2 separate regions of the Homo sapiens genome follow, and region 1 is linked to region 2. Evidence: fine-mapped expression QTL. Tissue or cell type: whole blood. Region 2 holds a variant in brackets; the other region holds the start of a gene. All regions are shown on one strand. Distances are between the middles of the regions. Region 1 holds the start of CD33 (CD33 molecule). Region 2 overlaps LINC01872 (long intergenic non-protein coding RNA 1872).

What was found. PIP is the estimated chance that this variant, and not a neighbour inherited with it, causes the effect.
Region 1: CD33 starts here. The variant in region 2 is the best candidate, but not a certain one, in a credible set for the expression of CD33 in whole blood (TOPMed, PIP 0.57).

Annotation. Positions count from the first base shown.
Region 1 is chr19:51,222,634-51,227,024 of GRCh38, forward strand. CD33 (CD33 molecule) reads left to right here and starts at 2,447. Exons shown (of 7, transcript NM_001772.4): 1 at 2,447-2,522; 2 at 2,585-2,965; 3 at 3,170-3,448; 4 at 3,676-3,723. The coding sequence starts at 2,486. The region is part of intron 2 of LOC107985327 (a long non-coding RNA gene); the gene reads right to left.
Region 2 is chr19:51,271,617-51,276,007 of GRCh38, forward strand. All of the region lies in intron 1 of LINC01872 (long intergenic non-protein coding RNA 1872), which reads left to right. Among named protein-coding and RNA genes, the nearest start is that of LINC01872, 2.5 kb to the left of the region's middle. The variant T/C (reference allele first, on the strand shown) is at 1,849.

The DNA of each region.
Region 1 (4,391 bases), 49 kb before region 2:
GAGATTTTCAAATAGACTAACTCACAATGAAAGAGGACATATCAGTGGTTGCCCAGCATAGAAGGTGGGAAGAAAAGCCCTTGGCATACTAGAAATGCTGTATATCTGCAGTGTGGTGAGTATACAGGCTGTACATACTCGTCAAATCTCATGCAAATGTGAACTTCAAGTAGGTGTGCTTTATTTCATGTAAATTATACCTAATTAAATTCATTAAAGAAACACAGTAAGACTCACATATTCATATTTGATCTTCTGGTCCATGAACATAGTATGACTTTATTGTTAAAACTAAATGTGGCTGGGCACAGTGCCTCATGCCCATAGTCAAAGCACTTTGGAGGTCGAGGTGGGAGGATTGCTTGAACCCAGGAGTTCAAGATCAGCCTGGGGGAACATAGCAAGACCCCATCTCTCCTAAACATAAAAACAAAAAGTTACTCCGGCCTGGTAGTATGAGCCTGTGATCCCAGCTACTAGAGAGGATGACGTGGGAGAGTCACTTGAGTCTGGGAGGTCAAGGCTGCAGTGAACTGTGGTCAGGCCGGTGCACTCCAGCCTGGGCAACAAAGCAAGACCCTGTCTTAAAAAAAAAAGCACTAAATGTATTGAATTTTCTATTACGTGCCACATGCTAAATATTTAAATAACTTACAACAGATATTATTTACTGGAGACTTAATTTGTTGTATATCAAATGAGGATGCAGCTACCTCTCTATTAGTAAGGATGAATGAAGAGTTATCTAGATACTATTGTGTGTAGAGATTTGACAAAGGTATGGTGGCAAGTACTAATATGTCCCAGGGATCAACGGTTTGCTGGATGCATACTACACAGAGTGATATGGAAAACCATGTAGCTGGACCTAAAGTTTAATTTTCTCTGTACACTCCACTCATGTTGTCTGGAAATATTATGTCTTTGGGCCATATTTAACTGTGAGAAGCAGATTTTTACATGAAAGAAAATGTTGATCCATATGATGAGCCTCTAAAAAAACTTGCTTCTGCCCACACTGAACCAAATGGCAGCATGAATGGAAAAGAAGTTTTTTCTGCACTGGTTCATAGAACATGTGTTCTCCCTTTTGTTTCACAGGAAGATGCTGCATGGTTCTTGTTTTGGAGATGTCATTGACACTGTGCAAATCAGTGTACTAGGTGCCAGGGGAAAATTCTATAGTCATATTTCTTTTAAAATTTCCAATATGCTACCATGATACATGGCAAATTCCCAACTTTTCACAGCTCTAAAGCCAGACAGCATGTGTGTGTGTGGTGAGGACATGAGGCTATGGATGGGGAGTATCTTAAGGGCAGGAATCAGGTCAGTGGCATCTCTTCTCAAGCCCCACCTATACACAAAGGCTCACTGTAAGAATTAAAGAAAGAGGAAAGAAACACGAATGGTGGCTCACCAGTCAAGACAGATTTTAGAGAAAACAAACCTGAGAGGAGTTTCTGGCCGAGTTAAGTCAGAGGCACACTCTCTTACAGACTAAGAGTTTTTAAGGATTTAGGGTGGGAGAGTTTATCAGAGACTTGGACTGCTTCTGAGTCTCTTTGTTGTGCTTATCTGGGAGAGAGAGGTGTGTGTCTGTACCCATACATCTTTCTGCAGCTACAGGCATACCCACTGAGTCTGCTTTTAGCTTCCCTATCTTAGTGCACCTGAAGGGAAAGGAATTTGCTTATTAAGGCCCACTGTTTTACTAGGGCCATTGTATGAGGGTGAAGTTTGGCAGTAACTCAAGAGACTCTCCCCCTACCTCCCTCTGTGCCCGAGCTGTCTTATCTGTGTTTCACTGTCTGCTCTTTCTGGTTGCTTGTAGTTAGCAGAGAAGTGATTTCCTTGAAATGCATGAGGCTAGAAAGGAAATTGGAACTTAAAGAGGCAGTGTTTCTCCGAGATGACGGTGCTCCTGCTCTGTCACTCACTATATCTTTAGTGAATGAATGAATAAATGAATGGCTGCCACCTTCACTTTACCTAGGACTCTTCTTTGTTTCTCTGCCCCAGACACTCACACGGACCCTATAGAATCCTATATCCTGCTGGACTAAACACCCCATGGATCTAGGTGAGGCTGCGACTCGGGCCAGGCCAGCAGTGATCAGCCCTGGTGTAAACAGTTGTGCACAGAAAAGCACCTCAGAGTGGAAGGACTTTAGACATGGGGTTCGCATGTCTCAGATGGCCCTGAAGGTACTGATCCAGGCTCTGGTGCTCCTGGAAGGCAAGACTCAGATTCTGCTCCATCTCCTCCCATCTCTGGGCGGGTCTCTGGCATCTCTGGCCCATGAGGGTCAATCTGTGTGGAGGGGACAAGCTCTGAGCATGTGTGGGTCTGAGGTTCCTCTTCCATGCAGGGCTGAGGTCTCCTGCTCCTCCCCAGCTTCCTGTCCGGCCCTGTAGTCCTTCCCCTCCACTCCCTTCCTCTTTTCTGCTCACACAGGAAGCCCTGGAAGCTGCTTCCTCAGACATGCCGCTGCTGCTACTGCTGCCCCTGCTGTGGGCAGGTGAGTGGCTGTGGGGAGAGGGGTTGTCGGGCTGGGCCGAGCTGACCCTCGTTTCCCCACAGGGGCCCTGGCTATGGATCCAAATTTCTGGCTGCAAGTGCAGGAGTCAGTGACGGTACAGGAGGGTTTGTGCGTCCTCGTGCCCTGCACTTTCTTCCATCCCATACCCTACTACGACAAGAACTCCCCAGTTCATGGTTACTGGTTCCGGGAAGGAGCCATTATATCCAGGGACTCTCCAGTGGCCACAAACAAGCTAGATCAAGAAGTACAGGAGGAGACTCAGGGCAGATTCCGCCTCCTTGGGGATCCCAGTAGGAACAACTGCTCCCTGAGCATCGTAGACGCCAGGAGGAGGGATAATGGTTCATACTTCTTTCGGATGGAGAGAGGAAGTACCAAATACAGTTACAAATCTCCCCAGCTCTCTGTGCATGTGACAGGTGAGGCACAGGCTTCAGAAGTGGCCGCAAGGGAAGTTCATGGGTACTGCAGGGCAGGGCTGGGATGGGACCCTGGTACTGGGAGGGGTTTAGGGGTAAAGCCTGTCGTGCTTAGCGGGGGAGCTTGACCAGAGGTTGATCTTCTCTCAGGCCCTCACCTGGACCCTCCCTCCTGATTCTGCATCCCCTCTTTCTCCTCACTAGACTTGACCCACAGGCCCAAAATCCTCATCCCTGGCACTCTAGAACCCGGCCACTCCAAAAACCTGACCTGCTCTGTGTCCTGGGCCTGTGAGCAGGGAACACCCCCGATCTTCTCCTGGTTGTCAGCTGCCCCCACCTCCCTGGGCCCCAGGACTACTCACTCCTCGGTGCTCATAATCACCCCACGGCCCCAGGACCACGGCACCAACCTGACCTGTCAGGTGAAGTTCGCTGGAGCTGGTGTGACTACGGAGAGAACCATCCAGCTCAACGTCACCTGTAAGTGCTGGGCCAGGATGCTGGGGTCCCTGAGGGTGTAGGGGAGACAGGATGGGCTGGTGCTGGGGACATTTAGTGTCCTGGAGGCCTGGCTGAGTTCGGGAGCCAGAAGGACATGAGCCCTGTCCCTTCTGCATTTCTGTGGTTTCTGGCAGGAGTAAGGGGAAATGCCTACCCTTATCTCATCTCTACCCCCAACTGAAGGAAATCCTCTCTTCCTCTCCTAGATGTTCCACAGAACCCAACAACTGGTATCTTTCCAGGAGATGGCTCAGGTAGGAAGGAGCCTCCCCGCCTGGGGCTGTTACTGACATTGAGTCTGTGTCAGGTTTGGTCAGATCTGGACTTTCAGAGTCAAATGTTCAGAGGCAAGGCCTGCAGTTAGACACGGGTAGACATCAGGCACCTTGGAAAAGGATATTTGGGGATGACTAGCAACTTCCCCCTTGCCCATCCAAATAATGCTCTTTGTCTCCCTCCTGTCTCTGAATGTCTTGGGGTATTTTATTTTTAATTGATATGTAATAATAGTACATATTTATGGATGGCATAGTGATGTTTCCATACTAATAATGTATAGTAATCAGATCAGGGTAATAGCATATCCATCATCTTGAACATTTATTATTTCATTGTTGTTGGGAACATTCAATATCCCCTTTCTAGCTATTTGAAGCTATCTATTATTGTTAAGCATAGTCATCCTACAGTGGTATAGAACACCAGAACTTATTCTTCCTTTCCAGGTGTAATCTAGTATCCTTTAACAAATCTCTCTCCTTATCATTGTTCCCCTAACCTTCCCAGCCCTTATTATTCTCTGTTCTACTTTTTACTTCTATGAAATCAACTTCTTGTAGCTTCCACTTATGAGTGAGAACATGTGGTATTCAACTTTCTGTTCCTAGCTTATTTCATTTAACATAATGTCCTCTAGTTCAAT
Region 2 (4,391 bases):
GATCACCTGTGAAGAAAACTCACGCACACACCAGGGCCTGGAGAAGGAAGTGAGACTGGAAAGAGATCAGAATTTTATTTTTATTTCATTATTTTATTCATCTATTTAATTTGAGACAGTGTCTTGCTCTGTCACCCAGGCTGGAGTTCAGTGGCACAATCTCAGCTCACTGCAGCCTCGACCTCCCAGGCTCAAGCAGTCCTCCCACCTCAGCTTCCAGAGTAGCTGCACCCACAATGCCGGGCTAATTTTTTAAATTGTTTTGTAGAGACAGGGTGTCGCTGTGTTGCCCAGGCTGGTCTCAAACTTCTGGGCTCAAGCGATCCTCCCACCTCAGCCTCCCAAAGTGCTGGGATTACAGATGTGAGAGATCAGAGTTTTTGAATCTGAAGGACCCTTACATAGTCTGCAGTAACCCTCCCATTCTACCGAGGAGGAAAAAGAGGGGGAAGCAGAAAGGGGACAGAACTTGCCCAGAGCTATCCAACGAGTTACTGGCAAAGCCCCAGTTGGAACCAGCCCAGAGCTCTTCCCAACCTTTGATTCGAGGTTGTAAATTAAAGGAGGAGGAGGAAGGATTTTGATAGTGAAAAAAAAGCAAAAGTGGGTTATGATGCAGAGATAGGATTTGTTATCTGGAAGCCTGAGTAGCATCTTGATGTAAGGAGGGAGTCGTTTTTTTAAGAGAGGCAGCGATCAGAATGGAAAAGCAGAGGGCTGGTTCTTGAATCAAAACATCACTGAGAAAAGAGATGAGTCAAGAGCGGTCACAAATTAAATGCTGAGGGAACCAGGCAGGTGATGTGAATGATAAACAGTTGCCTAGCACTTATTTTGTGCTGGCCTCTGTTCTGAGGGTTTTACATGCATTCATTCATTTAATCATTTAATGCTCCCAACAATTCTGTCAGATGAATCCTGTTAAAATCTACATGTTATAAGTGAGGAAACGGGAAACCCAGAGAGGGGAAGTAATTTGCCCACAGTCACACAGCTGGCAAATGGTGGCGCCAGACTTAAACTCAGGCAGGCTGACTCAGCACACGGTCTTAACCACTGTGTTATATGCCCCTCCCAGGTGAGTGCAGCAGGGAGAGCAGGGGCAGCAATGGACTGGAGAACAATTGTCCAATATTAAAGGGGAAAGTTAATATCTGCCATGTGTTGTCAGATCTAATTTATTAAAAAGTAGCTGGGAGTTCAGACTTTTATGTGAGGATCCTGATTTTTAAACATTGCAACTAATGAAAGAAAGTCTGTATGCAGTTTTCTTAATGCAGGCTAAATAAAACCCCCTGCATTTTAACTACCTCACAAAGCCACTAATTTGCAAACTCTAGACTATCTTAAATGAGGAAGCAGTTCCCTAGTGAGGGAAGGGCCTGGCCCAGAAAAACCTAGAAAATGGGAGGCAAAGACCAAGCCTTTGGACTGCTGGCCGTCCACTCACAGAAGAATCTAGAACCCTTCCTTTGAACTGGCTTCACATCCAAGTTGTATGGGTTTCCTGTTGCTTTCATAAGAATTACCACAACTTGGCCGGGCGCGGTGGCTCACGCCTGTAATCCCAGCACTTTGGGAGGCCGAGGCGGGCGGATCACGAGGTCAGGAGATCGAGACCATCCCGGCTAAAAACGGTGAAACCCCGTCTCTACTAAAAATACAAAAAATTAGCCGGGCGTAGTGGCGGGCGCCTGTAGTCCCAGCTACTTGGGAGGCTGAGGCAGGAGAATGGCGTGAACCCGGGAGGCGGAGCTTGCAGTGAGCCGAGATCCCGCCACTGCACTCCAGCCTGGGCGACAGAGCGAGACTCCGTCTCAAAAAAAAAAAAAAGAATTACCACAACTT[T/C]AGCAGCTTTTTTGTTGTTTGTTTTGAGACCAAGTCTCACTGTGTCACCCAGACTGGAGTGCAGTGGTGCAATCTCGGCTCGCTGCAACCTCTGTCTCCTGGGTTCAAGCTATTCTCATTCCTCAGCCTCCCAAGTACCACCACACCTGGATAATTTTCTAAAAATATTTTTAGTAGAGACAGGGTTTTGCCATGTTGCCCAGGCTGGCCTGGAACTCCTGGCCTCATGTGATCCACCTGCCTTGGCCTTCCAAAGTGCTGGGATTATAGGCATGAGCCACTGGGCCCAGCCCAATTTTAGCAGCTTTTAAAGTAACACTCATGTATGATCTCACAGAAGGTCAAAAGTTCTGGTGTGGCGTGGTTCCCCTGGTTTTCTGCTCCAGCTTTCACAAGGCCTGAATCACAGTGTTGGCAGGGCTATGTTGCTTTCTCGAGTCCCTTTGGATGAACCCATTTCCAAACACATTCAGAATCAGTTCCATGCTTTGTAGTAGTGAGGTCTGCATTCCCTTGCTAGCTGTCTGCTGGGGTCATTGTCAGCTTCTAGGAGCTGCCCTCATGGGCTCGTGGGTTCGTTCCTTCATCTTCAAAGCAAACAATGGTGAGTCAAATCCTTCGTATGCTTCACATCTCTCTGACCTCCACTTCTGGCTCATGTATGCCCTTTCTTTCTCCTGAATCTCTCTGACTTTTCTGCTTTGCAAGTTTCACGTGATTACATTACATTCACTCAGATAGTGCAGGATGATCTCCTCAATTTAAGATCAGCAGATTAGTCACCTTCACTCTATCAGCAAAGTCCCTTCACTCAGTCAGCAAAGTCCCTTCACTGAAGCACGTAGATTAATGTTTAATTGAATAACCAGGGCACAGGAATCTTGGAATGGGAGACATCTTTAGAATTTTGCCTACCACACAAGTCGAGGGGGAAGACATTTGTAACTCATATGGTGCAAAACTATATGCTTTTCCCACTGTCTTTCTCAAACCTTGTGAGGTGGACAGGACAGTTTGATTTATTCCCATATTTTATACATGAAGCATGGGACTCAGAGAGGAGAAGAGGCTTCAACCGTGATGACACAGCAGTTCTGAAGGCAGCCTGGCATACCGGAAAGAACACTGGGTTCGGAGTCCAGGGACCTACATTATGACTTCAGGATGTCCATTTCTTGGCCCTGTGAACCTGACTAGTTCCTATGCTGTTCTGGGCCTCAGTTTCCTTATCTGCGAAGTGATGCATTGAGAACTACATCACAGTGCTGTTGTGAGATTGAGAATGATAAAGTATGTGAATCTCCAGTGCACAGCACATGGGCCACCATGATTGTTCGGTATTATTTATTTATTTATTTTAAGGTATCTGCAGAGCCACAGCTAGAACCCAGATTTATTTATTTATTTATTTATCTCTCTCTCTTTCTCTCCCTTTCTCTCTCTCTCTCTCTGTCTGTCTCCCAGGCTGGAATGCAGTGGCACAATCTCTGCTCACTGCAGCCTCTGCCTCCTGGGTTCAAGTGATTCTCATAACTCAGCCTCCTGAGCAGTTGGGACTACAGGCGCATGCCACCACGCCTGGCTAATTTTTGCTTTTTAAGTAGAGAAGGGATTTTGCCATGTTGGCTAGGCTGGTCTCGAACTCCTGGCCTCAAGTGAGCTGCCCGCCTTGGCCTCCCAAAGTGCTGGGATTACAGGTGTGAGTCCCCGCGCCTTGCCAAAACCCCAAATTTCTTGGTTCCAAATCTTCTTTCATTTGATAAAGCTTTATTATGCACCAGCTGTGTTCCAGATTGTGTGTTGGGTACTAGAGACACAAAAGTGACTCAGACTTGACTTTGAAAGGTGGACTCCATTATGTCACATAAAGGTACCTTGGGCATGACACACAAAGGCCACCCAGAAGTGGTACACAAAGGTGATTCCAACATGACACACAAAAGATATTTGGACATGACTAATTTTCTCAAGGAACTCACATTCTGGTCAGAATAGATACAGAGTTACTTCCCTGCGTACTGTGAAGGGGCAGAAGCTGACCAAGGAGAGAAAGAGAAACAGAGGGGAAGTAGGGTTAGGTAGTATTTCTAGCAGTCTGCCAAAATCTGTCAAATTTTGGAGTTTATTTTGACAGTAAAGTGAAGCCAACAGATGGTAACGAACAGGGAACTGACATGATTGATTTATAATTTAAAAGGATGCCATGCAGATGTGGAAATGTGAAGGGGCAATGGTGGAAATATCACTGGAACAATGGAGTAATGGAAATTCCACTGTCCTTCCTCAGCTGCAGAGCCCCCTGCAGAGTCTCCTTGTCATCTTCCTCCAAAAGTTTTCTAGGAGTCCCCAAGGAGTCTCCTATGTCTTCACAAACAGGCCCCATTCATCTGGTACCTGCAAGCATGGAAGCTTTACTTTTTTTTTATGGTGGGGATGGAGTCTTGCTCTGTCACCCAGGCTGGAGCGCAGTGGCGCGATCTTGGCTCACTGCAACCTCTGCCTCCCCAGTTCAAGCAATTCTCCCACCTCAGCCTCCCGAGTAA